3 separate regions of the Homo sapiens genome follow, and regions 1 and 2 are each linked to region 3. Evidence: fine-mapped expression QTL. A gene starts in region 3. Each other region holds a variant in brackets. All regions are shown on one strand. Distances are from middle to middle.

Region 1 (10,694 bases), 190 kb after region 3:
CAAGGACTTAAAAGCAATTAGCTTGAAACTTGATTTGGGGAGTTCTCTTACAACAATTTAACAGGAAAAAAAAAAAACAGATCAAAGTGTTCATAAGAGGCCACTTTGTCTGTCTCTCTGGAATTCTGTGCTTTCTTACATTGATGTTCAGGTACTTTGGACAAAACAAACTGATGTGAAGACAAATAACTTCTTATGGTCAAATAAGTATTCCAATATATGGGCAGGAAAAAGCTCTAAAATGAGGAACTGTCTTCACCTGTACTTTGATTGCTACTTTTGTTTTTCTCTCTCTCTACACACTGGTCCTTTGCTCCCAGGGCATCTGTCTTGTCAGTGTAATTTAATGCATATCAGTCTAGTGATAGAGAAAGCGATGCTGTGTCACCATCCCTTCTGTCTTAGCTATACTTTTGCCAAAGTGGAAGTACAGCTCTAGAATCATTTATAGGTCTGTAAATGAAGAAGTAGGAAAAAATGGGTCTTGATGGTGTGGCTGCTGCTGGTCTTCTGGGCAAAAACAGCTTTAAGCAAAACGAAGGTAGCTTTGAACAAAGTGTCAGTAAAGGTTGAATTGTGTCCCCCACACAGATATGTTGAAGTTGTTGGAGCTCAGAACAAGAAGACCCGAAGTATAGCACTTCAGCATGCTGAGTACTTCAAACTTTAGGACACTGGAAGGGCCTCAGAAGCAAGGTCTCTCTGACCTTCTCCTGCCCTCCTGTTTACAGCCTCTCTTTCACCTCTGAAGCAAGTCATAGAAACTAGAATTTCTCTTCTCCAAGGTGGGTCATAAAAACTGGAACCCTTTTCTCCTAAAGCAAGCCATAAAACCTAAAAAGGTCTCTCTCTTCTCCTTTCTTCCTTGAAGACTTTCATTCTAGAGGGGTTCTGCCCCATACCTGGGTAGAAAGAGAATGCTATTCAGAGAGGCTGAGAAGAATCTGGACGGGCCTTGCTAGGTTCTCCACCTCAGTTTATTACCATTAGATCATACCCTTTTGCCCAATCACATTTCTACATGGCTGTCCATTCTTCATCAAAACTAAGCATAAAAACAGTTTTCCCTGGGTCTTTTGGTCATAATTTCAGAAGTCTCTTTTGTTGTGTAAAACTTTGATTAAATGAATTTGTTATGCATTTTTTTTGTTGTTAATCTGCCTTTTGTTAAAGGAATGTCAGCTATGACCCTTATAATGGGTGAGGAAAGTTATCACATTTTCCTGCCCCTACAAAATCTTAAGTTTGGTACCTGTGAATTCAACCTTTGGAAATAGGATCTTTGAAAATTTCATGAAATTAGGATGAAATCATACCAGATTATGGTGGACTCTAAATCCAATGATTGGTGTCACTGATAAATTTCATTCTAAATGCCCAACTCAGGTACATTTGCCATTGAAAAGTGGATGCAGTTAGGTTTTGATTTTCACATAAAGCCCCCAATTTCATAGGTTGTTTGTGCAAAATCCAAGCAGCCTATTCTTCTGCATAGTCTGAATCTCCTTGACAATGATCCCTCTGTCCCATCACCCTTCACCAGTTGGCACCAATCCCTTTTTTTCTGTCATTAATTGTATTGTTAATGTATCTCCCAATAGATCAGAACTTTCCAACTTCAAGTGTGCATAAAACTCAGCTGAGAAGTGTGTAAACTGCAAACTTTTAGATCCTATGCTCAAAGATTCTGGAGTGAGTTTGAAGTGAAGAATTCAGCATTTCCCTTTCAATTTATCTCCCCATTTATTTTTCATTCTGTTTCAGACTTTTCCTCCAATGATTCTCTCTCCCTCTCTTTGCCTCTTTCTCCATCTTAAGCCTTGTGAGAGACCGAAATGAGCTTGAGGAATAGCAGAACTAAAACTCACAAACACCAAACATTTCTACTCACAAACATTATTGAGTATTAAAAACAAGTAAATAAAAAGATATCAGAAGAGCACAGTCCCATGCTTCTCAGACCTGGCTGCACAGTAGAATCACTTGGGGAAACATTTAACAAACATCGATGCCTGGTCCCACCCTCGACCATTTAGATTAGAACCACTTGGTGGAGGAGGCTAAACACTGGCAAATCTTATCACTAACCCAAGTGATTCCCCATGGGCAGACAGGGTTGAGAATCCTTAGTGTAGTCAACAGATATAGCTGCACAAATATGGATCCACAGTGTCCCCTCTCTGTTCCTCACAGGGATGCTTCCAGGGTGGTGACAGTAGTGAGGGGTGAGGAATCGGCCAAAGCTAAGAAGCTCCTGAAAAGAGCTCCCAGACTTTTACTTCTGCCCCTCCTCCCACTCTTATCAGCACCCAGAAGTATCTTAGGCCAGCAGGTGAGGCAAGTGTTACTCAGTAAGCCATGGCCCCTAGACCTACTTCCTGGGGTCCTGGATCTGATGTTTTGCTACAGCATACCAAGGCAGTCCCTCTCATTCTACATCTGGGTCACAGTCACGTAGCATCTTGCACAAATTGAATCTAGGGACTTTCCATTTGTGTCCCCTTAGAGATTTTCCAGAAACATGCCTATCCGTAACATACTTTTCTGAAAAACTATCTTTTATGTCCTCCCTTTTTCACTTTCAGTGATGTACATTAAAGGGCAGCCACAATCTATTCACTCTGCCTGTCTAAAATTTAGTGAATTATCCTTCTATTGAATTATTCTTTATTATAATGAATTTAACTGGAGAGAGAAGTCACCACTCATAGTCCCTTCCATCCTCCTGACAACTTTTTGAGATTTTGCCTAGAAGAAAGGAGACCTTGCTTTCAAAACAAAGCTAATGTTTAAAACTCATTACATTTAAATTTTAATAGCTACACAGTATTTTATTATATGCACATACCAAGTTTAATTAACCAGTACTATACTGATGAACATTTAGGTTGCTTAAATATTTTACTACTATAAACAATCATGAAATGAATGTTTCTACATATTTTGTATCCATATGCACTAGTATATGTGTAGGACAAACTCTTAGAAGTAGAATCTTTGAGATAAAGGGAATATGCATTTATAATTTTGAAAAATATTGCAAATTATCTTCCAAAGAATTTTATTGTTCACTATCTCATCCCTGATGTCTAAAATGGACTACTCCTCATATCCTCACTAATGCAATGCAATATGAAACTATTTTATCTTGTCATTCTGATATGTGGATATGAACTATCACTAGAGTTTTAATTTCCATTTCTATTGTAATGAGACTGGACTTTTTCATATGTTTAAAAATTCTGTATCTTCCTATGAATTATTTCTTCATTATTTTCCAATTTTTCTACTGAACTTTTAGTTTTTCTTATATTTTCTTATATCTAATAAATTAGGAAAATGAGTCTGTTCTCTTTTATATATAATGTGAATACTTTTCCTTAGATGCCCATTTTAACATTATTTGTTATTTTTTTCCTGAAGATTAAAACATTATTTAAATAAATGTATTGATAGCTTTTATAATCACTGGATTTTATGTCATAGTTAGCAAGGCTTTCCACTCTCTACAGTGTATATAAGCTGGGCACAGTGGCTTGTGCCTATAGTCCCAGCTACATGGGAGGACTGCTTGAAGCCAGCAGTTCAAGACCAGCCCGGGAAACATAGCAAAATCCCATCTGTAAAAAAAAAAAAAAAAATTAGCCAGACATGGTGGTATGGTGCCTGCAGTTCCAGATACTCAGGAGGCTGAGGCGGGAGGATGGCTTGAGCCCAAGTGTTTGAGACCAGCCTGGGCGTTACAGGAAAACTCTCTCTCTCTCTCTCTCTCCATAAACACACACACACACACACACACACCACACCACACACACACACACACACGTTTTCTTCTAGCACTTCTCTGATTTCTTTCCTTTTCTTTCTCTACTTTTTAAAAAATGTTTACTGAACAATCCATTTTATGCCACTGATCAGCAATGCCACTTTTATTGTAGACTAAATATGTATATATTTGGATGTATTTCTGGACTGAATTGTAGCCCATTAATTTGTCTGTCTATTGATATGCCAGTACCACACTATTTTAACTTCTATCTTTTCATAGTTTATTATCCAATACAATTATATCTCATTCAATACTTTTCTATTTCACAGTTTTCCCTGGCCATTATTTCTTCCTAGTTCTTACATATGAGCTTTCTATCAGTTTATCTAGCTCTAATAAAAAATTCTTGAGGCATTGTGGCTCATGCCTGTAATCCCAGCACTTTGGGAGGCTGAGGTGGATGGACCATCCTGAGGTCAGAAGTTCAAGACTAGCCTGGCCAACATGGTGAAACTCCATCTCTACTAATAAATACAAAGACTAGCCAGGTGTGGTGGTGCATGCCTGTAGTCTCAGCCACTCAGGAGGCTGAGGCAGGAGAATCACTTGAACCTAAGAGGCAGAGGTTGCAGTGAGCTAAGAGAGTGCCACAGCACTCCAGCCTGAGCCACATAGCAAGACTCTGTCTCAAAAAAATAAAAAAAAAAATCCTGGTACTCTTTTAATTATAATTATATTAACTGCCTACATTAAATGAAGGAAAACTGATATATTTATGAGTCTTTCTAAAAATAAAGTATGTTTTCATTTGGTCAATTCATATTTTGAATCTCTCATTAACATTTAAAAACGTTCTTTACACAAATCTTGCACATTTGTTGTTTAAGCCTAGTTTTTAGTTATTTCATGTTTTTTCTTTGATGGTTGCAAAAATATGTTTTCTTCCATTATAAAATTTAACTTGCTGAGATTCATATGTATGAGCCTTATTGATTTTTGTGTGTTAAATATGTATTCAGTATTCTCTTTTCTAGGAAAGATCAATGGATGGCCCCAAGATAAAGCAGTATAGAAAGTCACAAGGGGAGTAGGAGGAAAGGATACAGACATATTTGCCAATTTAAGAATATCAGGTTTCTCTTTCAGACCCTGAATCTTAAAAGGTATTTTTTTAGGACTAAGGCAAAAAAAATTTAGACAGTAACCTTATTTGACAAACTAAATTGTTGGAGCTCAGAACAAGAAGGGTTTAGACAAAGGGTTTAGACAAAATCACAGATTATAGCTCAATAAAGAAAAAAGTGATGTAATGTGTTTTGCCTGGCATTTGAAGTGTTCCCTTGGAGGGCCCAGCTTCCTGGCCTGCTCATTTCCTAATACACTCCAGCTTCCCTGCATCACCTCCCATGCCAGTCATAGTGGTCTCTTTCCTATGCCTGATTCCTGCTACCACTGTTTGGTGTGCCCTCAAAGCTGCACTTGTGTACAATTGCTGGTAGTATCTCGCCTAGGACAGGGTCCTGCTAAGTCTCCTCTATGATGCATTTGTGTACGCTCACTATTCATAGTCTTCTCCCTGAGACTACTCAGTAATTGTAGCAAATTACTGAGTAATCCAAATAATTACCAGATTTTGGAGATGAACATTCCAATCTTCAAGTTCCATCTATGCAAATTACAGGATAAGTTCAGCTTAGATTAAGTTCTTTAGCTCCTCAGAGCTTTGGTTTTTCTCCTATGTAGAGTGAGGGTAATATGTGACCTACCTCTCACCCATGGTCATTGTCAGGATTAAGTATTCCTTAAAATATATCTAAACTATAAAGTGGTATCCAAATATCAAGTGTAAGGAATAACCCACAGACTGAAAATCACTCTACAAAGAGAAAGGAACAGAGCTCTTTTCTCTCTTACTCTAGGATGGATTCAGAAAGGTGACAGACGAGGGAGTAATTGTTCTCCTTTTGTTATTCAACTGATAGGGTCAGGCAGGCCATGGGCTGCATTCTTCTGTCAAGAATAGTAAATAGGCATTGTCACGAGTGCCAATGCTAAACCGATTATGAATGCCTGCCTGAACGCTGTGTTAGGGGTCTGAGGACCCATCTGAGTAGAGAGGGCAGACGTCTGTGATCAGTTAGTAATGGTGCATGAGCATGACAAGGAGAGATGGCAGAACTAATGCCACATGTCTGTTTTTCTGTCCTCTGTTTTGGGTTCGCTTCATGGGAAAGCAGTAGTTGAGCTGCTACTGCTATTGACCTTGTGATGTTTTTCCAGTTTTCTCCATTGCCATAGCCTGACTGTGTCTTAATACAGATTTCAGTTTCATTTGTTCCTTCAGTCTTTGACTAGAAATATAGGCCACCCCTTTGGGGAATTCATCTCAATGGGCACATTTCAGTCACATCAGCAATGATCTATTGTTCTTACAATGTTCAGGA[T/C]ACTCTGTGCTGGGGGCATGGGAAAACCAATGGCATTTGATACCTCCTATGTGCCAGGCACTGTGTCAGATACTCCATGAGTTGTTCCCCCCCGCCACCCCCGACCATCCTCAAAAACTTCTACAAAGCAAGTCTTATTTTGGCCATTTTACAAATAAGGAAACTAAAATTATTGAGGTCAAATATGTTATACTTCAAATGCAGAACTCTTTTCACTACAGTGAAAAGTGAAATGTCTCAACCTCAAGGGGCCTCTGACTGTGCTATACCCATTCCTCCACTGCAAACCTAGAGGAGCTTATTGAGTACTGAGTCAGCTGACATACAAGTCCTCTCCCTGCAAATACTGGAGTAATCGCAAAACCTGCACCAGGCCTTCCAGTTAGGAGACTCAGTAATCTTTCTGTTGTCTTCACATAGCAGAGAGAGGCCGCTAACCCACAACAAGCCTTGGGGCCTTTGCAAGATTTCCTGATGATCTAAATTTACACTGCAGGAGCCCCAAGCAGCTTTTTTATTTACAGCACTCTGGATCTCAATCTCTTAGTTACGTTACTCCCAATTAAGCTGATGTATGCTCACAAAGCGTCATTATGTGATTTAATCACAGAGCATTTTGAATTAATTATACACGGGCATTTTATAACATTCTAGGTGCCTCATTAAAATTGGTGCTGCTTTTAATAGATACATAAATGAGTGTGGCTGTGGTATTGAAGTTCCAATCCTGAGAAATATCCCCTACTGAAGGTAAGATATGCATGTTTCCACATGTATGTTTTTAAAATTCCGTGATTTAACACTTACTTACTTGCTCTCAGTAAACATTTAACTGAACAGATAAGCTCTCATGTCTCTATCTCATGAAGCTGAGTAGCCTGAATAAATTAAAGCATATTCATACATTTATTAATTACTTTGCCTTTGCTGGTAATTGGTGATGGATAGGGTTAAAGGTAGGTCATCATTTCACAATAGCCACAACTCCATTTGAATAAGGGAGGTGATTAAAGTTTTCAAAAAAAACCAGAGGGGTTTATATTTTAGCTGGAGTTAATTCCATGGTGAATCGAGTGAGAAAAATATTCAGCTCTCCCTGAGGCAAACGAGGTTACTATGACCTCTTCCAAGTCACTAAGTGGTTCCTGGAAGTATAATTTTATGTAACATTTTATTATATTTTACTCCCAGAGTGCTTGTCTTTCCTAAGACTATTAAGCAGGCTTCCTATGCCTATTCTCTCCCCTTCTGCACCATTTCAGAGTCTAATCCTGTATCTCAGGTTTCTATTGCTGCCACACTGCCCACTTCCACTCCCCAATCTTCTCAACCTCTGCCCCACCCCCAGCCTCTCTATTCTTCACCCTCACACCCCAGCCCCCAGGACCCCCATTCTCCCTCCCACAAGTAGTCCCTTAAATCTTGACCTTCCTGCATCCTAACCCCACCAACAAAACTCATCTGTCCTGTATCCTATTCTTTCCAGATTCTCCTCACTAACAGAAAAATCTGCCCAATAAGTTAATGCTAGTATAGGTCATTGGTGATAGATCACTGTGTTACATTTCAACAAATAATTTTACATTAAAAACAACCCCACTGATTGACTGTGTAAAACAAAATATTTGTGGCTACAGGAAAGCAGGATGAATGAGAGGTCGTTCTGACTTTCTCTCTCATTTTTTTTTCTAGTCAAAGTAACAAAATGACATCATGCAATGTGATCATCCACTCGGTCTTGACTTCAAATGAACTTGACTCTCCAATATTAAATCTACCTTGGATGATCAGCTGCTACCAGTGGAGTTACTTGAATGAACATGCTGCCAATTCTGAAAGTAAATTCTAACGGAGATAATCACTTTAGTTGAAATAACACAGGCTTTGGCACATCTGGACAGATGGGCTGAAATCTAAGTTTGCTAGATGGCTAATGTTAAGTGACTTAAAATACTTCTAAGTCTCGGATTTCTCATCTGTGTACAGGGAATAAAATTACCCACCTCATAGATTAAATATAAAAGGTTTAACAGCACATAGAAGTGTCTCAAGTAATGCCCTTTCTTAACAAAATATTTCAGCATCTTAAATAAGTATAGTTTCCTTAGTTGACCCTCCCTCTTTTTTACAATTATGTCCTTGTAAGTTTGTTTAAACAATAATTTTTCTATATTGCCCAGGCTGAGCTCAAACTCTTGGAATCAAGGAATCCTCCCACCTTGGCCTCCTGAGCAGCCAGGACTGCAAGCACATGCCACTGCACCTGGATTAAGAACAGCTTTTAAAAGGTGATATTTCTTTGTAGTTATGCCTCCTACAAGTGGCCAAAAACCCATATGTTGTCAATCTGCCATTAAACTACACATTCAAAAAATCACTAACTGATCTGAAAGCTCCCCACAAAGCAGAAGAGCTGAAATTCTTTGAGCCCCTGAATACTGGAACTGAAATGTTGGTAAAATATCAAGCCTGCATCCCAGATCTCCCCTGGGTGAATCTAGGTATGGGCAGTTCTCTGCTTATAAGTTAAGGTCAAGTTCAGGTTGGTGAAATCCACGCTTGTTGTAGGTGAAGAATTTAGGTTTCGAGCTTTTGGATACATCCTCAGTGACCACACGAGGGCTAATACCTTTTAAAGATTTAATGAAGGGCAAGGGAACTGCTTTTTCAGGACATAGTCCTGTTGTGTTTTGGCACTATCTGGAGAGCTTACCAGAGATAGGTGGAAAATTTCATTTCAGCCTCTAACTATCTTGGGGTAAGTTGCTGAAAATTCTCAAGGCTCAGTTTTCCCATTGGGAGAGTAATAACTTCATTGGGCTGTTATGAGAAATGACAGCGTGATTGGTTGGTTCATCAAAGCAGGGGTCCCCAAATCCCGGGCCATGAACTGGTACCTGTCCGTGGCCCATTAGGATCCAGGTCGCACAGCAGGAAGTGAGCGGCAGGCCTGCGGAATTACCGCCTGAGCTCCACCTCCCGTCAGATCAGTGGCAGCATTGGATTCTCACAGGAGTGCGTCCCCCCCCCCACCCCCCCACCCCCCCGCATTGTGAACTGCGCATGCGAGGGATCGAGGTTGCCCGCTCCTTATGCGACTCTAACTAATAATGCCTGATCATCTGAGATGAAACAGTTTCATCCTGAAACCATCCCCGCCTCCCAGTCTGTGGAAAAATCGTCTTCCACAAAACCAGTCTCTGGTGCCAGAAAGGTTGGGGACTGCTGCATTAGAGGACATAACAAACCTGTTTAAAGCAGGGAGTATAGCCCCGGCACATAGTAAGTGCTCAGCAAACCCTGGTTTCCTTTTTCCTCTAGCCCTAATCTCACATTCAAGATCAACTTTACTTCTAGCCAAATAAATTTGCATCCACTGATATAATTTTATAGGTAATGGAAAATTCCCAGAAAAACAAAACAATCTACCAAATCATGGCTGATTTGCTAATTCTTTCCATCGGTCACTCACCTGACTCACTCCTTTATTTCATTTAAAATTCTGTGATTATGGCCTCCTCCTCAGAGACATCTTCCCTGCTCACCCTGTGTAAGATAATTCCACTCCATATCACTCTTTATCTCCTTAACCTGCTTATTTTGTTCACAGCATTTATTGCTACCTGAAATTAATATACATGTATTTGTTTATTTCCTACCTTCCTCCACTAATATGTAGGCTCAGCAATGGCAAAAATTTTGTCCGTCTTGTTCATGGCTGTTCTCCTAGCACAATATTCAAAACAGTCTAGAGGCCAGGCATGGTGGCTTATACCTATAATCCTAACCCTTTGGGAGGCCAAGGTGGGAGGATCACTTGAGCCCAGGAGCTTGAGACCAGCCCCAGCAACATGACAACAGCTATCTCTACCAAAAAAAAAAAAAAAAAAAAAAAAAAAAAAAAAAAAAAGCTATGCACATGATACATGCCTTTAGTCCCAGCTACTCAGGAAGAGGATTGCTTGAGCCCAGGAAGTCAAGGCTGCAGTGAGCAGCGAGTGCACCATTACACTCCATCCTTGGCAACAGAGCGAGACCCTCCCTCAAAAAAATTAATAAATAATAAAATAAAGCAGCGCCTGAACACATATGATAGGTGCTTAATAAGTATTTGTTGAATAAACAAGTTATTTTTTTAAAAAATTTTTATTAAAATTGTATTTTTAAGGTGTAAATTGTGATGTTTTGATATATTAATACATATACATAGGAAATTACTGCAGTCAAGCTAATTAACATTTTATGTGTGTAGTAAGAACACTTAAAATCTACTTTCTTTGCAAATTTCTAGAATACAATACTAACTATACTCCCTATGCAATACATTAGCTCTCTAGAACTTATGCATCCTACATACTAACTTTGTACTTTTTGACTAATATCTTCCCATTTCCCCTCATCTTTCACCTCTGGTAAGCACCATTCTACTCTTTGCTTCTATGAAATTGAATTTTTTAGATTTCACCTATAAGTGAAAGCAT
Region 2 (10,443 bases), 170 kb after region 3:
TACTTACATGTGAAAAATGAATAGTATATGTATGTATAAGATGTATTATTGTTTTCCATCTATGTAGGGATATGTAGATGTCTTGCAATAATTACATAAACCTTTTCTGTAACAAGGTCAAGGAATTGGGGTCAGGTGACAGAATGATTCTTTTGTAGCTCCAGTGTTTGTTTTAACCCAGAAGGCCAAGGTCTCCAGATGTTAGGTCACAGCCCTGCATTCTGCCTCTTTTTTTTGCTCTGTTTCCATGTCCTTCAAATAACTAACTCAAGCTCAAATTTTAACAGAAATTGAACTGACCAGCAGCCAAGGGAGTTGACACGTGATTTATGAGTCAGGAGACTTGAAGATGGTGACTTAACACAGCTTCCAGATGCTGAAAACGAAAGTGACTCAAGACATACACTCCAGGTTGAAGGCATATGCCAAAAAGAGAAAAGTGGGAAGTGTGATTTAGGGCCTATCTTCCAAAGGGTAATGATGAATCTCCTCAGAGGCATAGCATTTCACTTTCAATCAGGATACAAAGATAGCAGGAAACATTTATACCAAAAGGGAAATTTGTTCAAAAAGTAGAAATTTATGCAAAGATAATTTTTTGAGGTGATATTTTTGACAGTAGAGCTGGCAACTGTGTTTAGAGGTCATTCCCACACTCTGGGTACCACTCATGACTGTCATGCTCTGACGAGCTCCTAATCTCTCTCCTAAATCCTTCCTCCCTCCAGCTTCACAGATGAGACAGAGTGGAGATGAAGAAACAGTCTCAAAATTATAACTGTGAACCATAGAATTTCCTCTGATCTTTTGTGTGCAAAACAGTAAATAATAAAAAAAAAAGAGAGAGAAATTTAAAAATTGAATTTCCCCTCCAAATCACAAGCATTTATAGTTGGAAAATTTCAGTACTAATTTGTAGACAAGTGTCTAACATTTGGTAATCCGTATGTCATTACAGATATGGGTCAAAAATGGTACATTTAGCTGAAAAATTATGTAAAAAGAAAGTATTATGAAAGGATAGAGACAATTATATTTCTTATATCTGAACAGTATTAGTGTGTTTCAATGATCACTTTATTCTCAGTGTAACCTCAGCCACTGGAGAATGCTGATACCTAAAAGTTATGATGATTAAGAATGTGGTCTTTGAGGTCGGGCACAGTGGCTCACACCTGTAATCCCAGCACTTCGGGAGGTGGGGGCGGGAGGATTGCTTGAGGCCAGGAGTTTGAGACCAGCCTGGCCAACATGCTGAAGCCCCGTCTCTACTAAAAATACAAAAATTAACCAGGTGTGGTGGTGCAAACCTGTAATCCCAGCTACTCAGGTGGCTGAGGCAGGAGAATTTCTTAAACCAGGGGGGCAGAGGTTGCAGTAAGCCAAGATCGTGCCATTGCACTCCAGCCTGGGTGACAGAGGAAGACTGTCTCAAAAAAAATAAAATAAAATAAAATAAAAGTGGGCTTTGGAAGGAGACTGAGGCTGGGAAGTCCTACTTCTGCCATTATCCAGCCCTGTAACCTTGGGCAAATCACTCAACTTCTGTAAACTACACTTTCCTTATTCATATGGTGATATTACAAATTTGCGAGATAAAATTAGTTATGACATAATTTATGTAAAAACACTTAGAAAAATGAATGCAACATATTAACTACTAATAAATGTTGACTTTTACTATTAATTGTGACAGTATTAAGGGACAAAACATCTTAACATGGCAGTAATTTGAGACTCCTGACCCAACTCCCCCTAATAAGAGGACTTTGTCTTTATCTACTCAGATTCTTCATTTGTCCCTGCCTTGCCCTCTAAGAGAATTTTGCCAAACTAATTCCTAAGCTTTTTGTAAGAATAGGCAGACCACGTTAAAGAAAACAAACAAAAGGACAGAAAAAACAAAGCAAAACCAAACAAAAACAGCCAGGTAGAGTAGACCTGCAAACTGAAGAAGTTGGGTGAAGAACAAAAGCCCACATGGGCCACATGTTCTGTGAGAAAGTGTTTTAGGATTTGGCATGTGAGAGTCTCTGGAGCAGCTTTGGAGTCTGAGAAACAAGAAAGGAAGCAAAGGCAGTTTGGGAGCCAGGGCATGGTGGCACATGCCTGTAATCTCAGCACTTTCAGAGGCTGAGGTGGGAGGATTGCTTGAAGCCAAGAGTTTGCAGTTGCAGTGAGCTATGATCATGCCACTGCACTCCAGCCTGGGCAACAGAGTGAGACCCTGTCTCTAAAAAAAAAAAAAAAAAAGTTTTGAAAGGTGTTTTACCATGGATTATAAATGGATCTACTATCACAATCTTTAAGAGATCAAAGTAAAGAGCAGGTTTCAGTTGTAATGACTGGTTTCTTGACTGTGCTTTTTCATGGAGCATTATGTAGAGGCTAGGTCATGTGGGGCCTCGGTTTATACATAGTTTATGCAACCACAGTTCCTGACTTACCAAGTGGCACTTCTCTAACAGTGCTGTGTCAGATTTGCCTGCTATGATCACTCCTTTTTCTGGCTTCTGTATTTATTGGGTGAAGTACACTTTAAACTTAAAGAAGTGAGTCTTTATTTTTCTACCTTCATCACCAGGCTCTTCTCCACTAGCAACTCTTTAGAAAATAGCAGTGGCCTCAGCAAAGGAACATATAGTAATCAGTAGTGCAGTTGCAGACACTTAATCTTTATTGCCACCACCCCAGACCCTAAGTCAATCCTTAGCCAGGTTGGGGGAAGCAAACAGAGAAGGCAGATTATTACAACTGTTCCTCAGACATCAGATTTCTTCTATGACAATGAAGTGTTCGAGTAATTCCTGGCACCATTGTTTTAGGGTTCACTTTCCAAAAAATACAGTCAGGATTTCTCTTTGGAAACATGCATTACAACTCTTCTTTATGGATCTGTTCCAGGTAATTACACTGTTTTACTCAGGACAAAGCCTCACCCGTTAAAGAGCTTTGGTACTATTGAACACCTTAAATTTATGTTGTGACCAACAACAGCATCAGGGATTACAGGGGGAACAGATCCCTTTCACATATTCTAAATACACAACTGAACAATCAACACAATTCAAATGTTGCAAACATTTAATTTATTCCTGCCCTGACCCGTCTTTCAAATAGCAGACTCAAAACAGGTGGTTATTACATCAGCCTCTAAATCACTTTTGTATAATCAATTAACCTCATTACGTTGAGGTATTCAAACAGTTTCCACCAACGGACAATTTTATTATGACCAACACAATTTGTTTTCTCTTACCAGCCTCACAAATGGCCTCCTGAAACTAATGCTTAGAGAAGTATTGGAAAATTTCCTGTGCTGTCTCAGGGCTGTATACATTTGCCACACAGCAGCACAATGAGTCCATGTTATTACATATGAAGGCTTGGGATTATGCCTTTCCATATGAAATGCATAAGCAAAACAACCCAAACCACCCCAGCCTACACAGAGAAATTCAAGTACCTAAGTACCCACCCTATTTTCCAAACAAGTAATATCTATACAGGCTCCTAATACCAAGGACTTCATTGGGTTTGTTGTAAATAAGTCAGTGGATGATCATAAAACACTTCTTGGCAGTAACTAAATCAAGAAGATCAGCGATGGTTGGCCTAAGTCAGCTATAAATTTTATGGCAATTTTTTAATGAGGCAAAGGAAGGGAGCTTATCAGCATTTTGGCTTTCAGGGTCAAATGAAAGAAAGCAGGAGAGAGCAAGAGAAAGGAATCTGGGGTACCTGGTGCCAAGAGAAGGAAATGGAAAAAGAGTGAATAAAAAAGGAAGAGAAAAATCCCCAGCTGAACAGAAGGCAAGAAGCTAGAGGCTTATACAGCCTTTAGCTTAAGGGCAGAAAGTTGTAGTTTGGTGTTTTCCTCAAGGGATGCCTGCAGAAAGATTTCTGTGCCAATGTGACCTTGGAAACTAAAAATGGATCACAGCTTTGGTGTTTGGGCTGAAATATACAAGAGAAACGCGGGAAACAGATATGAAATAGATTGGGTAGAAACACCAAGTAGCAAAAGACAAACCATACCCAAAAGATAAAAACCAGGACAGGACGTCATGATTATTATGACCCATGTTTATTTGACCAGTCCTGACCAATACAGGACCTTCTCTGGAAACAGGGGTTTTTTTTGGGGGGGTGGGGTGGGGTGGTGGTTTGAGACAGAGTCTCGTTCTGTCGCCAGGCTGGAGTGCAGTGCTGTAATCTTGGCTAACTGCAACCTCTGCCTCCCTGGTTCAAGCGATTCTCCTGCCTCGGCCTCCCTAGTAGCTGGGATTACAGGCACGTGCCACCATGCCTAGCTAATTTTTTGTATTTTTAGTAGAGATGGGGTTTCACCGTGTTGGCCAGGATGGTCTTGATATCCTGACCTTGTGATCTGCCCGCCTTGGCCTTCCAAAGTGCTGGGATTACAGGCGTGAGCCACCATGCCTGGCCGGAAACAGGTTTTAATACTTCTTTGGAAATGGAAATGTTTTGCCAACTTAATGGAGAAGGCTGGCATTTCCATGGGGACTATGAAAATTTATTCTGATTTAATAAAAACCTGAACAAGCCAAAGTGAAACAGAAGCTCAATGTTCCAAACTAAATTAGACATTTTATTAATCCAGTTAGAGGTCATTGGCCAACTGTAAATTCAGAATAGTGATTTTTAAAAGAGAAGAAGTGGGGATGGGTAAAATACCCTGAGAATCTGGCCTTCACCTGCAGCTGGGCCAGGTAGGTGGGAACCTTGACAAAGGAATGATGCAGGTAGCTGGGCTGGGTGTGTTTGGTGAGTTAA[C/T]AAGTAATCTTCAAAGCAAGAATCCGTGTCCATTCAGAAAGCAACCAGACTCTACACAGCAAGACTCTGGCTGCCATCAAGCCTTGGTGTTCAGTTGGCCTGAACTTTGATGCAAAACTGAGCTCTGTTCCTCGAGATATCCCCACTAGCTTTTACGTGTGTTCTCACAGATGTTTCACATCTTTGACTTTTGCCTTTACTGATGGCTTTAACTTTATTATTTAAGATCTTGTCTTGTCACTTTCATTGTCTCACAAAAAGGAGGTCACAGAAACCTTGTCTTTTCTAAAGGAATTTTTTTTTAAATCTACAAACTTGTCTCTGTTACCTGAGAGGCCCTTTTTGAATTTTCCATTATAAGCCAGTGGGAAAAACCTTAGAAAACCTGAAGGAAGCCCAGAGTTTAATTTTTTAAATTAATCATCCATAAAATAAAGTAGACTGGTTTACTATAGAAACAAGGATTCCAATCATATTTAACTGCAGTGTCGGGTGAGAGAAGAGTATTCAAAGTAGTGACGAAGGTGGTTAGGGATGGGGTAATGTGCATATTGAGCTGTCATTTTTCAAGCATTCTACAGAAAAGAAATCAGAGATTTTAGAAAATTATTAATGTCATAAACAAGACAAAACTTAGGAGAAACAAAGCAAAAAATTACACCCTGTTATTTAGTCTGAAAATTTTTTACTTACAAAAAAAAATATCGCAAAGACAAGAAAAGAAATAGCTAAATGAATAGACAGACAATTCAAGCAATTTATTGTAAGGAAGAACAATCAACTTCCACAAAGAAAATATCATGGAGATATAACTGGACATTGCAAACACTTTATGTATGGATTCTGATTTAGAATTTACTTGCTTGAACCCAAATTCTCATGCTTCTATGTGACCTGTGAAGAATTATAAGTTCTTCCCTCTGTGAGTCAGATCCCAATTCTGCCATACTGTTTCTGGTTCAGATTTTCTTCCTATAGGTCTGTCAAAAACAAAAAAAAAGAAGAATCACTGGAGTGGGAACTAGAGGCCTTAGGTTCCTGCCCTGCTTCTTGAACTAGCAGTTAACAAATATACCAAGTTACATTTTTGGGTAAAGAATAGCCTGATGGATGAATCTTCCGAAGTGATGTCCTTGGACAAATTGCCTAAATCTGGGTCAGCTTCATGGGCATAAGATCTGTGCGGTCTCACAGAGTCCCATACTTAAAAGGGCTTTGTGCTTAGTTTAAGGCCCTGCTGTCACCATCTTAGTAATTTTTTAACAAGGGACTCCACAGTTTTGTTTTGTGTTGGGCCCATTAACTTAAGCAGCTAGTCTTGCCTTAACACTGCGCAGCCTCTGCTTCCTTTTCTATAAAATCAGAATTGGAAGAGCCCTAGGATCATTTCTAATTTAGGAAGTGATGATACAAACCCTTCAGGATTGTCTGGCATTTAGACAGCACAATGCCACAATCACAGTGAGGAGATTTTTCTGGGATCTGTTTCCAGGACAGTTTCTTTCTTAAATTGGCCACCATACTCCATGATGGAAACTGCAAGACCTACCATGCCAGGGATTATCCTGCTCCCTCTTTCTCCTCTCAGTGACCAACCTCTCATTATAGCACCACTGACTAGCCAAGTGTTGCCACAAGAATGTTGCAAACAACCACCTCCAAAACTTAAGAGGCTTAAAACAGCAGCCATTCTTACTGTTCTCACATTCACAGTTAGCTGGTGGGTTCTGTTGATCTTGGTCAGGCCTGGCTGAGCATTTCTTTGACCATAGCCATCTCTCTCTCCCATGTTTCAGATGGCCTCAGCTGGCACACCTCAGCTCTGTGCCTGTGGTCTCTGTCCCTTCAGCAGGCTAGTCAGGGCTAATAGAGGCAAAGGTCAAGAGAAGGAGCAGAAGCAAGCACAGCTTTTGAGGCGTAGGCCTGGGACTGCATAGCATCACATCTGCTGCATTCTACTAACCAAAGCAAGTCTCAAAGCCAACCCAGGTTTGGAGGTACAGGAAGTAGACCTCAATGAGACCTCTTGAGTAGACTTCTTGATGGGAGGAGCTACAAAGTTACATCCCATGGTGCTTGGATAGAGAGAAGAAAAGAATTGGAGCCCCTGTTGCAATAAATCTGCCGCACTCACATTAATCAAAAGTTCTACTAGCTGTATATATTCATCACAACAAGGTATCACCGTGTGACCCTAAGAAAATCACCTGGGGTCTCCTTCCATTGCCACATCTATATAAATGAGGGTATCCAGATTCACTCTAAAGCCCTTTCTGCTCTGACATTCTCATAGTCCACAGGCTCAGTTCTTACTCCAACCAGTTTCCAATCTTCCCTTCCTCTTCTGAACCAGACACCTGTCTCTACATCCTATATAGGGCATTTAATCATAGACTGGTCAAAGTAGTCAATTTAACTTACTTTAATCTTCATAGCTTTGTCAGGTCCTGTAATTCCTGTAATTCTCAGAGGAAGTTTAAGTTTTGCTTAGCCATGCAAGAAACCTCCTTGCTAAAACTGAACGAGTAGCAAAAGGTGTATTTCCCAGATCCATGTCTATGTCTCTGTGTTTCCTTTGTCTCTACAGAGCAGAATCCTTTCTGATTTCAATGTTCTCTGCGCCACCCCCATCCTCCTATCAGACTGCATCAAGCACTCACAGTCCAGCCAAACCACATTGGCATGGCTCACTGCAGGCCTTTGAGCAGGGGCAGCATTCTTTTAAATAAATGAGAGGGACAGTGTGTTCTTGCTGAAGCCTGCAAGGTCCTGTCAGCTTTACGCTTGCTGATTTACATGGCTTTTAAAAGACATAACCATAAAATTTCACTCCAAAATTCACTCTGGCCAGTCAGATCTTTGCCTAGGCCTGGCAATTTTAATTTACCAAAGTAACGAGATAATAGTTTAATTTTTCCCCTTGTTGGATGCCCCTTTAATCTTCATAATTCACGATACAGCTCTTTCTCCCAGTAAGCTCTCTGATGGGAGTCTATGATCTAGATCTTGTTTTATTTTTTCTTAAGAAATCATTAAAGCGCAGAAGCTATTCCTACAAGGATCTGTAATCCTAACGTGTAGAACCAGTAAAGCACCACAGAGCTGGATAGTGGGATAAACATGCTGCATGTGGCTTCCTGGGCACGTGCACTAGCTGCTTTTGCCACTGGTTCAGGGAACAGGAGCTAAATTTGGTCTGTATTATTGTGTTTTAAGCTGAAAACTGATTCTTGGCTGGCAGATATGCTTTTTTCTTTTCTTTTTTTTTTTTTTTTTTTTTTTTTTTTTTTTTTTTTGAGACGGAGTCTCGTTCTGTCGCCAGGCTGGAGTACAGTGGTGCAATCTCGGCTCATTGCATGCAACCTCCGCCTCCCGGGTTCAAGTGATTCTCCTGCCTCAGCCTCATGAGTAGCTGGGACTACAGGCATGCGCCACCACGCCCAGCTAATTTTTGTATTTTTAGTAAAGATGGGGTTTCACCATGTTGGCCAGGATGGTCTTGATCTCTTGAGCTCATAATCCGCCCACCTCAGCCTCCCAAAGTGCTGGAATTATAGGCGTGAGCCACCGTGCCTAGCCAGATATGCCTTTTCTTTGCACATTCATTTGTGTTTCATTGTCTCAAAAATAAACTTGTCTTTTCAAATCAGGAAATCTTCCACTAAGCCAACAAAAAAAAGAGGGGTGATAATAGAGGACTCGCCAGTCTGTCTCTTACTTGCTGACATGCCTGTTTCCTCTGCGGTGGTTTTTGTCATTCTGCTGCATGTGTCCATGTTGGCATCAGGTTGGAGCAACACAGCGGGTTCTTTGGCTCTCAAGGTGGTCTTTAAAAGTCACTGATATTTGGTACTTGGTCACCTTGCCTACCCTTCAATTGCTTTTCTCTATGAAATCTAGTGCTCTGTGCATTGTAGTGCTTTCTCCAATAATTAGAAAAGAAAAACAGAATCTCCAAAATTCCTAGATCAGGGACTGTTAGGTAGGTAGGGAGGGAGAAAAGGGGCAGAGACGGTTACAGCCAGCCTCACATTTACAAAAGTCTTCACCTTTTCACTTTTCTTGCTTTCAAATTAGGTTATATATATAAAACCACGAAGATACAGAATTAAAAGCAGGCATTAATCTTATGCCCCATTCTGGTTCTAATGTACTTTAATGTTTATAAAATGATAATTATCTTTAAAATAACACTCTCTTGCAACATACTTACTGTGACAAAAGTTTTCATTTATTTAATGAAAATATTTAAAATATTCTGTAAATGTCATCACTTTATTCTGGCCTGTTTTATTTTTTAAATAAACCAGGAGACTCGAATACTCAAGGTTGCTGGAACTTCTCTTAACTTCTGAAGGGCTCTGCTTTGGACAAATTAGTTTTGTTTCATTGTGCATTACTAACCTCTTCTAAAGAAAACCATAGAGTAGAAGAAATGTGGCTCACATGTTTGGGGTAGAAGAAAGAGGTGGACACTCAATCAGGTAAAACATTGTCAAGAGCTTAGGTCCTAGACAGGAGCTGGTATAGTCACTTATAGAAAGATCAAGGCTGAGAACACACCATCTTGAGATGGGACCCTCTGAGCTCCCTCTGGATTTCCTTGCACAGGTCACTTTAGCTTTCAGAATGTTGTGTCAACACCTTGGCTTGGCACACAAGAATCTTTACAACTTGGCCGCTGACCACTGTCCAGCTCTTTCTCTCTCTCCACTCTTCTTCCCAGACCCTTTGCTTTGGTCCTATCACGACAATCTTAAAAATGCTATTGAACACTCCCATCCTATTGAAGGGCATGCTATTGAACTGCCCTTAAACTCCTATCCAGTCGTCATGAAGCATTCAATCTGTATCTCATGCCTCTGGGCTCCGATAGAACCCTGGGAATATTTCTACCACTTACCATTCTGTATTTTAATCTTTACTTTACCTGTCTGTTATCTTTTTTGAAAGAAAGGCTATATTTTCATCATTGTTTTATTCCTCCTTTATAGTAAAATACATGGCACATGACAGAGTCAATAGTGAATTCATAAATGCATGAATAAACAAAGTAGACCAGAAACCTATTAGAAATACAGAATCTCGGGCCCCACCCCCAGATCTACGAAATCAGAATCTGCATTCTAACAAGCTCCCCAGGGAATTTGATTGCACTTTCAAGTTTGAAAAGCACTGATCCAGCTTACTCTGCTCTCTCACTTCTGTAAACATCTGGAGTACTGATTGTCTAAGGTTCTGGGTTTAGTAATTGTTAATGTACCTGTCTTGCACTCTGCTTAATTGATTTGTGTGAGTGTGTGATTGTGTGTGTATGTTACTGTATGCTCACACACTTCCTTTCTTGTCTCCTCACCCAGAAGCCTACATGGGGGCACTCTTGACATTCCGTCACTACTCCTCTCAGCACCCAGAACTAGGTACTACCCAGAGTATTTTTAATCTTCCTGGAAAAATATCCCATAAGAAGATAAAATCTGCTACCTAAGCAATGGGCAAAGTGTTGGGGAAGAGTGATAGGGAAAAGAGCACTAGCTTTTATTGAGATTCTACTAGTAGGAAGTACTGTTGACACTGTATGTACTACATCTCATTTAACCTTATGTAATGAGTTAGGAATCATAACCCCGATTTTACCAGTGAGGA
Region 3 (10,616 bases):
TATTTTTAGAAACTATGAAAAAAATTGAATTATTGTTTATAATGTAATCATCAATTCATAGGAAAATAGGCAAGTGACAGACAAAAACAAAAACAAAAAAATCCAATGAAACATAAGAGAGATATACAGTTATGTTCACCAGCAGGCATAACTCTTGGTTGATACAGTATGAAAACATTATAAAATTAAAAATATCTCTGATTGGAGAACATAACTATACTTTCCCCTATTCTATTTTATTCCACTTCCAGGGAATTAATGTTTCTCTCATTTTTTTTCATCACCAAATTAACAGTAGATTAAAAGAAAGTGAGAAAAGAGCAAACAAAATAAATGTATTCTATCATAAATTATGAAATATAGCTCTTATTAGGTACTTAAACACAAAATAGATCTTCTGTCCCATATTCTGCCACATCCTTTTCTATGTTACATAGTTACAGAAGTAAAATAACGAGACTTGAGTGGAAAGAAAGTGAAAGGAGGGAAGCAAAGGGAGTAAAAAGCAACTAGCTGAAAATCTCTCAATACAAAATGATGCTAAGTAAGGTCTGTTTGACAAATTTAATGCAACATTTCATATGCTGTTCTATTAAAAACAAACGACATTATTCCCCCTAAATTATCCCTTTGAAGCCAACCAAGTTAATATTTTTGGAATTGACATGTAAGATAGGATAACAAAATAAGTTAAGCATTTAACAACATCTCTAAACAAAGTATTTCCAAATTTTATACATCTTCTAGTAGAAGAGTTAGCTCTTTGTATTTGTTGGTGTATACTATTTTATAAAATAAAACCCTATTTAATTAGTCTATGTAAATTACTTGGAAGTCTGCAAATAGTAATTTTCATAGATGTTACTTAGTGCCAGCACCCTCCCCAAAATTAAATGTTACATAATTTGTTCATTTTGTGGGATTCCTAATTTGAAAAGAAACAACTAAAAAATAATACCAGAATAAAATAGCTACTCCTCTAGGGGATCACAGTAAATACAGCATTATTTTTTGCACTCTCTTAACTCTGTGAACTTCATTAAAAAGTTTAAATTTTCCCTAATATCTTTGAAACACGTGGTAAATGCGGTTTTAAGTATTGAGATTACTGGGTTCTGAAGAGCAACAATGAATGCCTAATTCCATTGAGTACAAGAATGAGCTTTTGCTTTATCATTGCAATAAATAAAAATGAAGTCTACTTTTATTAGTCTTGTGTTTCTCTCAACCCTAAGAAAATAAAAATATTTACAACTTGCAATGGTTACATTACAAAAAGTCATTTCATAAAAGTCTAAACTAAAATCCAAATGACTTCCTATGCGTTATTAAAAATAATCTTTACAGTCTATAATCATGCAAGCTTACATATGGAATACCAAAATGATAAATGTTTTTAGATACCATAAATATGTGCACTTACTACCATGGTGACTAAAACAGTCTAAGAATAAAGGAAATACAAGCTGTCTTTGCAAACGTATTTATTTATTCATATACTACACCTGTATCAGAAATTAAAGTGGTTTTGGTTTCAAAAAGTTTGAATTCTGGTTTCAAAATTATTAAATATAAATTTATATTAATAAATATAAAATTTAGTAATAAACAAATTCGGTGCTTGCTTGATATAAACGTGCTGAATAGCAATGCGTAACCAAGTGATTACCATTTAAATGACTTTGGAAACAAGACCTCTGCTCCCTATTTGGATTAGGCTGATAAATTTTATGACCTTACTGTGAGCGTATTAGTATCTGTACATAACTTTGGTTAAAGACATGTTTTACAATCATTACCTCTATATACAGTTAAACATTAATTTCATTTACAGTCAAAAGTATTTGGGGCCCTCTTAACAACATGTGAACTGTGTTTCCTTTGTCAGATGTAGAATTTTACAATTATTCGGCCAACCAATTACTAATCAAATGATTTCTTTACAAATGAAGTTTTGTACCACATTACTAAAGTAGCAGACTCTAACTAGTCCAGCTAACCCAGAAGCACTGTAACTAACCACACCGCACACAGCACTAGCTTATGTCTTCAACGCTCAGACCTGTATTCAATCAATTTCCTTCCACAGGAGCCTGCCAACTTCAACAACAGAATAAACGATATAATATCAACACGCAATGGTACGTACTCGCCACAAAGTCTGAATCACAGCACATATATTAGGCCAATATTTTCGACAGTCTGACTCAGAGCCCAGGAACCATGAAGATTGTGTCTGTCCTTGGTGCTGAAATGCACTGTTTTTCTGCGCCCTCACTGAAAAACTGTCATCCTAATCCCAATCCAAGAGGCTAAAAAGACTTGTTAATTTGGGGAGTCTGAGGATGGGAGGTTTAAAAAAGAAAATGATAAGTTTCTGGAAGAGAATGCCAACTAGTGTGTGTGTGTTGGGGGAAGGGGGTTGCTAGAAACATCCCGAGGGCATTTCCCCTTCAGTGCCCAGAGACCCAGGAAATCCGGACTGCGGCAAAGATCGGAAACGCCTCGTCGGGGCAGGAGCCGCGAGCGGGAACGTCGCCCTCGTCCGGGCCAGGCGGGCGAAGGCGGCGAAGGGCGCCACGGTTGTGGACGGCTACTTTCCGCGCCAAGGCGCGAGCCCCGGGGTCCTTTTGTTTCTGGGGTGAGGGGAGGGCGGTGGGCGGAGGGTAACCCACATCTGCATTTATTTGCACAGAGGGGACAACAAAAGACCCTGCCGCCCTGGCGAGCGGCGTCGGCGGAGCCAGAGTGGCCCCGGCGCCTCGGCGCGAACTCTGTCCCTTTCCTCGCGGTCCCGGCCGCTCTTACCGTCCCGGTCGCACAGCTGAATGGCCTCCAGGCTGAGGTTTTTGATCACCTCCTCACAGGGGCTGGTGGGGCTGTTGAGGGCATGATCCAGGCGCGGCACCTCCATTTTTCCAACCCACTCTGAAGCCCGCCTGCTTCGTATCCAGGCTCTCTCTGCCGGCCGGGTGGGCAAGAAGAGCGGGAAAGGGAGGGGGAGTGGCAGAGGGAGGGAAGGAGGCCTGGGACGCGGTGATGCGGCGCCGAGGCTGAGGCGCGGGGCTGGAGAGCCGCCGCGAAGGCGACGGCTGTGGCAGGAGCTCCGCGGAGTGTGCGGCTCTGAGAGACCGAGCAGGACCCGGCGCGAGGATGGGAGGCGCGCGCTCCCGGCGGGGAGGGGACGCTGCTCTCGGGGAACGTGATGTATAGGGCTTCGACGCGCGCACGCGCGCGGGAGAACGCGCCCACCTGCTGGCGCGCGGTGGTCCCTCCCCCGCCCTTCTGCGCGCACGCGCCCCCACCTGCCCTCCAGCCACTGCCAAGGCAACCTCGCGCGTGAGGCGTCGGGCGACCGAGCGCGCGGGAAGGGCGAGCGCTATACGCCGCGCGGCTGCCTCGCCCTCTCTCCTGGTGATAGCCATTTGGCGTCTTCTGTCTGCTCTCGGTGCCTGGCGAAGCCCGAGTTGGCCCTGAGGCGTCTGCACGGGGAGGCGAGGGCGAGCATGTTTGTTGTTTACCAAGAATTGGAAAAATAAGGGCCCGGACTCTTCGGACTCTCTGTACGGTATTGGGGTGTGGGAGCCACCTCCTCCCCTGAAGGTCCCAGGATACTCGCTGCCCGCACCCTGCGGGCTCGGCCGGACATTCCTCGGAAACAGCTGCGTCTGTGTGAGAAATGAGCGGATTACCTGAGGCGTGGAGGGGTTTAGAGACAGCATTTTGCCAGTCCACGACACTGAAGCGGGGCAAACGTGGGAACTCCTTACTGCCAGAAAGGTGAGGGAATGAGGAGATGCAGCAAGCCTGCTGAAAAGGCGGCAGACATGCTGCGGGGCCAGCAGCCACGGGACCAGCAGCCACGCAGTCTGCCTTCGCAGCGTAGCTTCATTCATTCATGCGCGTAGCAAATAAGTATTCAATGCTCACCCTATGCCATTGTTCTGGGCGTCAATGAAGGGAGTATAAACAGCACCTGCTCCCATGGATTTGGAAGGAATCTTTGCTACAATAGCTAATGAAGATTGACTTGTGCTTCCTCAAGCTACTCTATAACTTGTATGCCCATTGATTTTAATTGCATTTAAGATTCTGCAGTGCACTTAGTGGATGTGCAAACGTTTTAAACATAAAATAGAGGTCACAGCCTATTGACCTCTGTTCCCGTTTGCTTCTTTGGAAAAGTTTTTAGTTTTGTTGCTATCTTGGGATCAAAAATAGTGTCCCCTCTTTTCTTAATGTGCTTATAAATTAATATAAGTTCCCTTTTATTGATTTTCCATTTCAAACATAAATGTTAACCAACAAGTAACAGTTTACACATAGATGTCTGTATGCTGCTCTTTCTAGTCACATCCATTTAGCTATAACATGATGAAGTCTAATTAATTGAAGCTTCAATAAATGGAAGGACCAGCTTAAAGTAAAATAAGCCTGTGAAAAATCTTGGCACAATTGAAATTTCATAAATATCTGTGAAAGATAATTAGGCATCTTAAAGTGAAAAGTCTTCATTATGAACTTATTAATGAAGATGGATGTTTTTGAAGTTTGAAAGAATTCTTGTCTTAAGGTAGGGGTGTCCCCAAGGAGAGGGTAAATTATTACCTGTCAAAGGATATGACAAGAAAGTACTTACTGGTGAATTTTCTGTGTTCGAAAGCCTGGCTCTGTAGAACTAGAAATTGGTATTGTAAGCCCAACAGTGGGTTCATTTTTTAGAGTAGTCTCAAATTTATAAATCTCAAAAAAAAGGAACTGTGTAAACTAGAATAACAATTTACTGATTTTCAAGTAAGAAATACGACATGCATTTAATTCAAACTCATGCAAATATTTATGAAGCACCTATGTCCAGGACACTGTGCTATGTGTTGAAAATTTGGAGTTCAAATTTATCAAGAAAGATATATATTGAAAAAGTAAAAGTAGGATGGGTGTTAAGAAAGAGGAAGTATGGGAGCTTGTAGAAGCACGCACGAGGTTTATAACCTAGGTTAGATGGTCAGGAAGATCTCCAAAATGATTTTATCTTAAGGGAATGAGAAATTATTAAAAAGGCTTTAAATAGGAAATTAGCATGATCAGATTTGTCGGCTAGAATATTTGTGTAATCGGAAAGGGTAATGTTTCAAGAAGTGTATTAATGTCACTTTCTGGGTATACAACTTAATCAATCCAAGGCACCTTTCTGCTGAGGATTTGGATTCTTGTATAAAAAATACAAAAGAAATATTTACTTTTTAACTTTCGATATTAAATATAGGATTTTTTAAATCGAGTTTTTAGGCTTCAAATCGAGGCATTGTCAAGACATAAAATGTAAATTTGTTTATGGTTCAACATATCAAGGCTAGGCCTGGTGGACCAAATGATAGGGTTTCTCCCATAGTAAAGACAAGGTATCTTAGTCCAGTATGAAGGATTTAGTCAGAGATTGATATAAGGAAGGTGGTGGCTATGAAGTAGGTAAAGTAGAAGAAAATCCTATTCTCTTTGGCTTGGAGAATTACGGGAAAGGGGTAGAAGAGCTCAAGAAAGACACCAGAAACATTTTTACTGTTCCCACCCTGAAGATGTAGGGTGAGGGGTTGTGGCTTTAGAAATATCCAGATTGGTGTGGGAAAACTCAAGGACAGAGAAATTACTTTCCCAATTCTCAGATATCTGGGAAGATATCAGGCTGAGCAGGAACCACATTCCAGTAACCTTGAACAGGGCGGAGACAGGGTAGGCATTGACTTTCCAGAGTGCTGTAAGTTTCTATGTACTGTTGAGACTCAGAAAACAATACTCCCCTCCTCCCCAAAAAAAAAAAAAAAAAAAAAAAAAAAAAAAAAAAAAAACCTCAGAAGTAAAAGTTTTTCCTCTCATCTTCTGACCTTCAGCCTCTCAGTCTCATTTTCCCCTGAGGCTAGCTATAAGAAACTAGAATCCCTGTTCCCCAACGTGGGTTATAGAAACCACAATTCCTTTTCCCCAAAGCCAGCCATAAAATCTGAAAATATTACTCTAATTTTTCTTCTGCTTTTCTGTGTAAAAACTGGCCATAAAGAAATTATCTTACCTACCTTGTTTAACTGAAGGTCATAAGATCCTCATTCCAGAGAGGGCCCTGCCACATAGCCAAAAGGAAGAAGTGCATGCTCAGACAGGTCAAGAAGAATCTAGACAGACAGGCCTTTCTGGGTTTCCCTACTCAATCTATTAGTATTAGGTCATATCCCTTTTGTCCAGTCATATTTCTTCATGACTGTTCATACCTTGTTGAACCTAAGGATTAAAATGGTCAATTTTCCCTGTGTCTTTGGTCTTCATTCTGAAGGCTTATGTTGGAAATGTGGTGTTCAAATTTCATGTAAAGCTATGATCAAATAAATTTGTATGCCTTTTCTCCTCTTCATCTGCCTCTTGTCAGTAATTTTCACCTAACCTTCAGAGGGCTAAGCGGAAGTGTTCTCTTGGCTCCAACAGTACTCAGAACGTGGTTGAGTTGAGAGCTATCCAATCTTCCCTGAAGTTTTTTGTTAAAAGAGCAAGGTGACACTTTAGCAAAGGCTATGGAGTGGACCTTCTAGACCAGGGATGTCTAAAGTACCAAAGAGTTGAGACCCGTCCGTCAGAGATGGCCGCAAGGCCCTGAAGCACAGACCATGAGTTTCTCTAGCTACCAACTTCAAGTGAAAGACCAGAAGCAACTAGACATATGAGGAATGTCACCTCAGAGACCAGAGGAGGCAGAAGAACCTGTTCAAACCAAATGACCCTTTGTCCCAATGCCTCAGGTAATGGTATCTAGGGATATCTGATATTTCCAGATACTATCTAAAATAGGATGTAGGGGAAAGGTGGAAATCTTAGAGACTGAGGGTCTTAACGTAATAAACTTGAACTTTAAGGAACTGCTTAAAATACTGAATGAACCCAGGTTTCTGGGTTAGAATAAAAACACATTATTTCCCCTCCCGTTTGTCAGTGACTGAGATTTCATGAAGATGATCGAATCAGTTTAGACAAAATGAAAATTCTACCTTTTTGTACCTAAATTGCAGTGTAGTTGCAATCCCCATACACTCAACATCACTTAATCATTAGCTTGAGATGTCTGCTATTACAATCAAAATCCTACCAATCATCCGAGCCCCAACTCGTATGCTACATTCTTTTGAAATGATTCCCTCTGTCAAAAACCTTTATGTTGTATTTCTGTGGGGCTTTATAGTTCTGTTACAGACATCATGTTATGATTTATAAGTTATTAATGTACATGAAGAATCAGAATCAAATTTTAGGGACTTAAATATATCTAATTCAATACCTTATCCAATGTCAAAGCCCTTGACAAGAAGTTATTTATCTCCTAATAAATATTAAATTAAAATCCTCATGAAGTTATCCAAAGTCTTTCGCATTCTGAGCCCAAACATATCTCCTATAAGAGCACTACAAAGGCCTTAATTTTCCGATTTGTTCGTGATACAGAATAATAATCCTTCCTATTATACATATATATTCAAATATCTGCCTAAATACTCACGGTTTTTGCAAATGTTTGTGATATCCCATTGTTTTGAGTCCCTCTGTCACTCTACACACTCTCTTCTAGATAACTCCAATTTTTCTGAGTCCATAGGTAAACACACCAGGTGTGGAAATATAATAAGAATATAAAAGAAAGCACAGTAGAGTAACACCATCTTTGTTGTGTGTGCCAGACATCTTGTAATGCAGCCCAGGAGCCCATTAGTTTTTTTGACAATAATATCGCTCTGCTCACATATTCTGAGCTTGCAAAGACATAAAAATCCTGTATCACTTCTGTGAACATTTCTTATTTCTCCTGTGATACTGTAGATTTTAAGCACATATTATAGTATTTGCAAAGAGAAGATACTTAGGACAATTTGCTGAATTATTTTAGTGAACTCCGATACTTCGAATGTATTTAGTTATATTGCTCCAGCTAGCCTAGGATTTTATCAAAGTAGGCTACACAGTCCTTTTGGTAGGCTAGTCCATAGGTCTATCTTATTCATAATAAAATGACCCACAACCCCTGGCACAACTAAGGATTTTATGACTCGCAGAGGGTGCCAAGAACCAAAACCAAACAGAAACAAACTCCACAAAATGCATAATAAATGAGTGCATCTTATTTCCTCTCATAACACTATGGAAACTTTTCCTAAGCCCTATTGTAAATGGAAGGGCAAAGGAAAACTCATAATCAATAGAAACACAGTTGAAAGCAATCCAAATATTCTAAATTGTTTGTCCTGACTCAAGAAGTATTGGGACTTGTGAAGATCAAGTAACATAATGCATATAAAAGTATTATTACGAACTATAAAGCACCCCCAAAAGTTAGGATATTATTACTGTAGGACACCAAAACGACATTAAGAAAGCATATTTGGTTAATTTTACAGTACAAATTTATGGAAATAGTTTCATAACTTCTTAAAAACTGAGAACTTTCATATTTAGACTATCTTTATGGTTTAATGTATTGAGGATTTTAAAACACAAGGATGATTTAACATACAAATAAATAAATATGATATACCATATTAACAGACTATAGGACAAAAACCATATGATCATATCAGTAAATGCAGAAAAGGAAGTCAACAATGTTTAACATCTTTTCAAGATAAAAACCGTTAACAAATTAGGCATTGAAGGAATGCATCTCAACACAGTAAAGACTATGTATGGCAAGCCCATAGCTAATATCATGCTTAATCGTGAAAAATTGAAAGCTTTTGGTGGTTCATGCCTGTAATCCCAGCACTTTGGGAGGCTGAGGTGGGTGGATCACAAGGCCAGGAGATCGAGACCATCCTGGCTAACACGGTGAAACCCCGTCTCTACTAAAAATACAAAAAATTAGCTGGACGTGGTGGTGGACGCCTGTAGTCCCAGCTACTCAGGAGGCTGAGGCAGGAGAATGGCTCCTGAACCCAGAAGGCGAAGCTTGCAGTGAGCTGAGATCACGCCACTGCACTCTAGCCTGGGCAACAGAACGAGACTCCGTCGCAAAAAAAAAAAAAAATATTGAAAGCTTTTCTTCTAAGATCAAGAATAAAATAAGAATGCCCATTCCCACCACTTCTATTCAACATATTACTGGAAATCCTAGCCAGAACAATTAGGCAAGAAAATGAAAAAAGGCATGCAAATAGGAAAGGAAGAAAAATTATCTCTGTTTGCAGATGACATGATCTTATATATGGAAAATCATAAAGACTCCACCAAAAAACTCTTAGAACTTAAAAATTCAGTAAAGGTGCAGGATACAAAGTTGGCATACAAAAATCAGTGGTGTTTTTATACAACAGCAACAAAACAGCAAACTTTTTGAAAATCAAGAAAACAATTCCATTTACAATAGCATCAAAAAGAATAAAATACCTAAAGTAAGTTAAACCGATGATATGAAAGATCTGTACAATGAAAACTGTAAAATATTGATGAAACAAATTGTAAAATACACAAGTAAATGGAAAGATATCCCACCTTGATAGATTGGAAAGATTAATAGTGTTAAAATATCCACACTGTCCAAAGCAACCTACAGACTCAATGCAATCTCTATCAAAATTCCAAAGGCGTTTCACAGAAATAGAAAAAACAATCCTAAAATGTACATGAAACCACACACACACACACACACAAACTGAAGAGCTAAAGTAGTCTTGAGCAACAGCGAAGCCAGAGGCATCACAGTTCCTGATTTCAAACTATATTACAAAGTTAGAGTAATTAAAGCAGCATGTTACTGGCATTAAATGGACACATAGACCAGTGGAACAGAATAGAGACCCAAAATAAATCCATGTATTTAGTCAACTGATTTTTGACAAAGGTGCCAAGAACACACAATAAGGAAAGGACAGTCTCCTCAATAAATGGTTTTGGGGTAACTGGATATCCACATGTGGAAAAATGAAATTAGACCTTTATTTCACACCATAGAAAAATCAACTAAAAATGAGTTAAATACTTAAATACCTGAAACTATAAAACTAATAGGAGGAAACGGGAAAAGCTTCATGACATTGGTAATTGCGGGGGGGGGTGGGGCATAAACCCAAAGACACAAACAGCAAAAGCAAAAATAGACAAATGAAATTACATTAAACTAAAAGGCTTCTGCAGAGCCAAGAAAACAATAAACAGAATGAAGAGACAACCTATGGAATGGGGAAAAATTGTTTGCAGACCATACGTCCTAAAAGGGGCTACTAACCAAAATATATAACAAACGCAAACAACTCAATTGGAAACAGTCCCGATTTATGAAAACAGCCCGATTTAAATAGACATTTGTCAAAAGAAGACGTACCAATGTTCAACAGGTATATGAAAAATGCTCAAAATCACTAAATGTCAGAAAAATCTAAATTAAAACCATAATATATTACCTCACACCTGTTAAAAGAGCTATTAATTGACAAGACAAAAGATAACGAGTGTTGGAGAGGCTGTGGAGCAAAGAAAACCCTGCACATTGTTGGTGAGAATGTGAATTAGTACAGCCATTGTAGAAAACAGTATGAGGGTTCCTCCAAAAATTAAAAATATAATACATGATCCAACAATCCCTCTGTTGG

Alleles and levels. Positions count from the first base shown, and alleles are read on the strand shown. Sizes are in standard deviations (SD) of each study's normalised expression. Not every link is listed here.
For the expression in gastroesophageal junction of the gene that starts at base 3,125 in region 3, allele T in region 1 goes with a lower level than allele C (large effect, 0.83 SD a copy in GTEx).

Evidence for each region. PIP is the estimated chance that this variant, and not a neighbour inherited with it, causes the effect.
Region 1: its variant is fine-mapped to the expression of PHYHIPL in gastroesophageal junction (GTEx, PIP above 0.99).
Region 2: its variant is fine-mapped to the expression of PHYHIPL in pancreas (GTEx, PIP 0.97).

Annotation. Positions count from the first base shown.
Region 1 is chr10:58,977,147-58,987,840 of GRCh38, reverse strand. No RefSeq gene overlaps it. Among named protein-coding and RNA genes, the nearest start is that of LINC00844, 17 kb to the left of the region's middle. The variant T/C (reference allele first, on the strand shown) is at 6,214.
Region 2 is chr10:58,996,563-59,007,005 of GRCh38, reverse strand. It overlaps LINC00844 (long intergenic non-protein coding RNA 844), which reads right to left and starts at 7,488. Exons shown (of 2, transcript NR_108046.1): 1 at 7,219-7,488; 2 at 5,389-5,777. The variant C/T (reference allele first, on the strand shown) is at 4,798.
Region 3 is chr10:59,169,152-59,179,767 of GRCh38, reverse strand. PHYHIPL (phytanoyl-CoA 2-hydroxylase interacting protein like) reads right to left here and starts at 3,125. Exons shown (of 5, transcript NM_032439.4): 1 at 2,809-3,125. The coding sequence starts at 2,914. It overlaps CCEPR (cervical carcinoma expressed PCNA regulatory lncRNA), which reads left to right and starts at 3,304. Exons shown (of 1, transcript NR_131782.1): 1 at 3,304-5,805.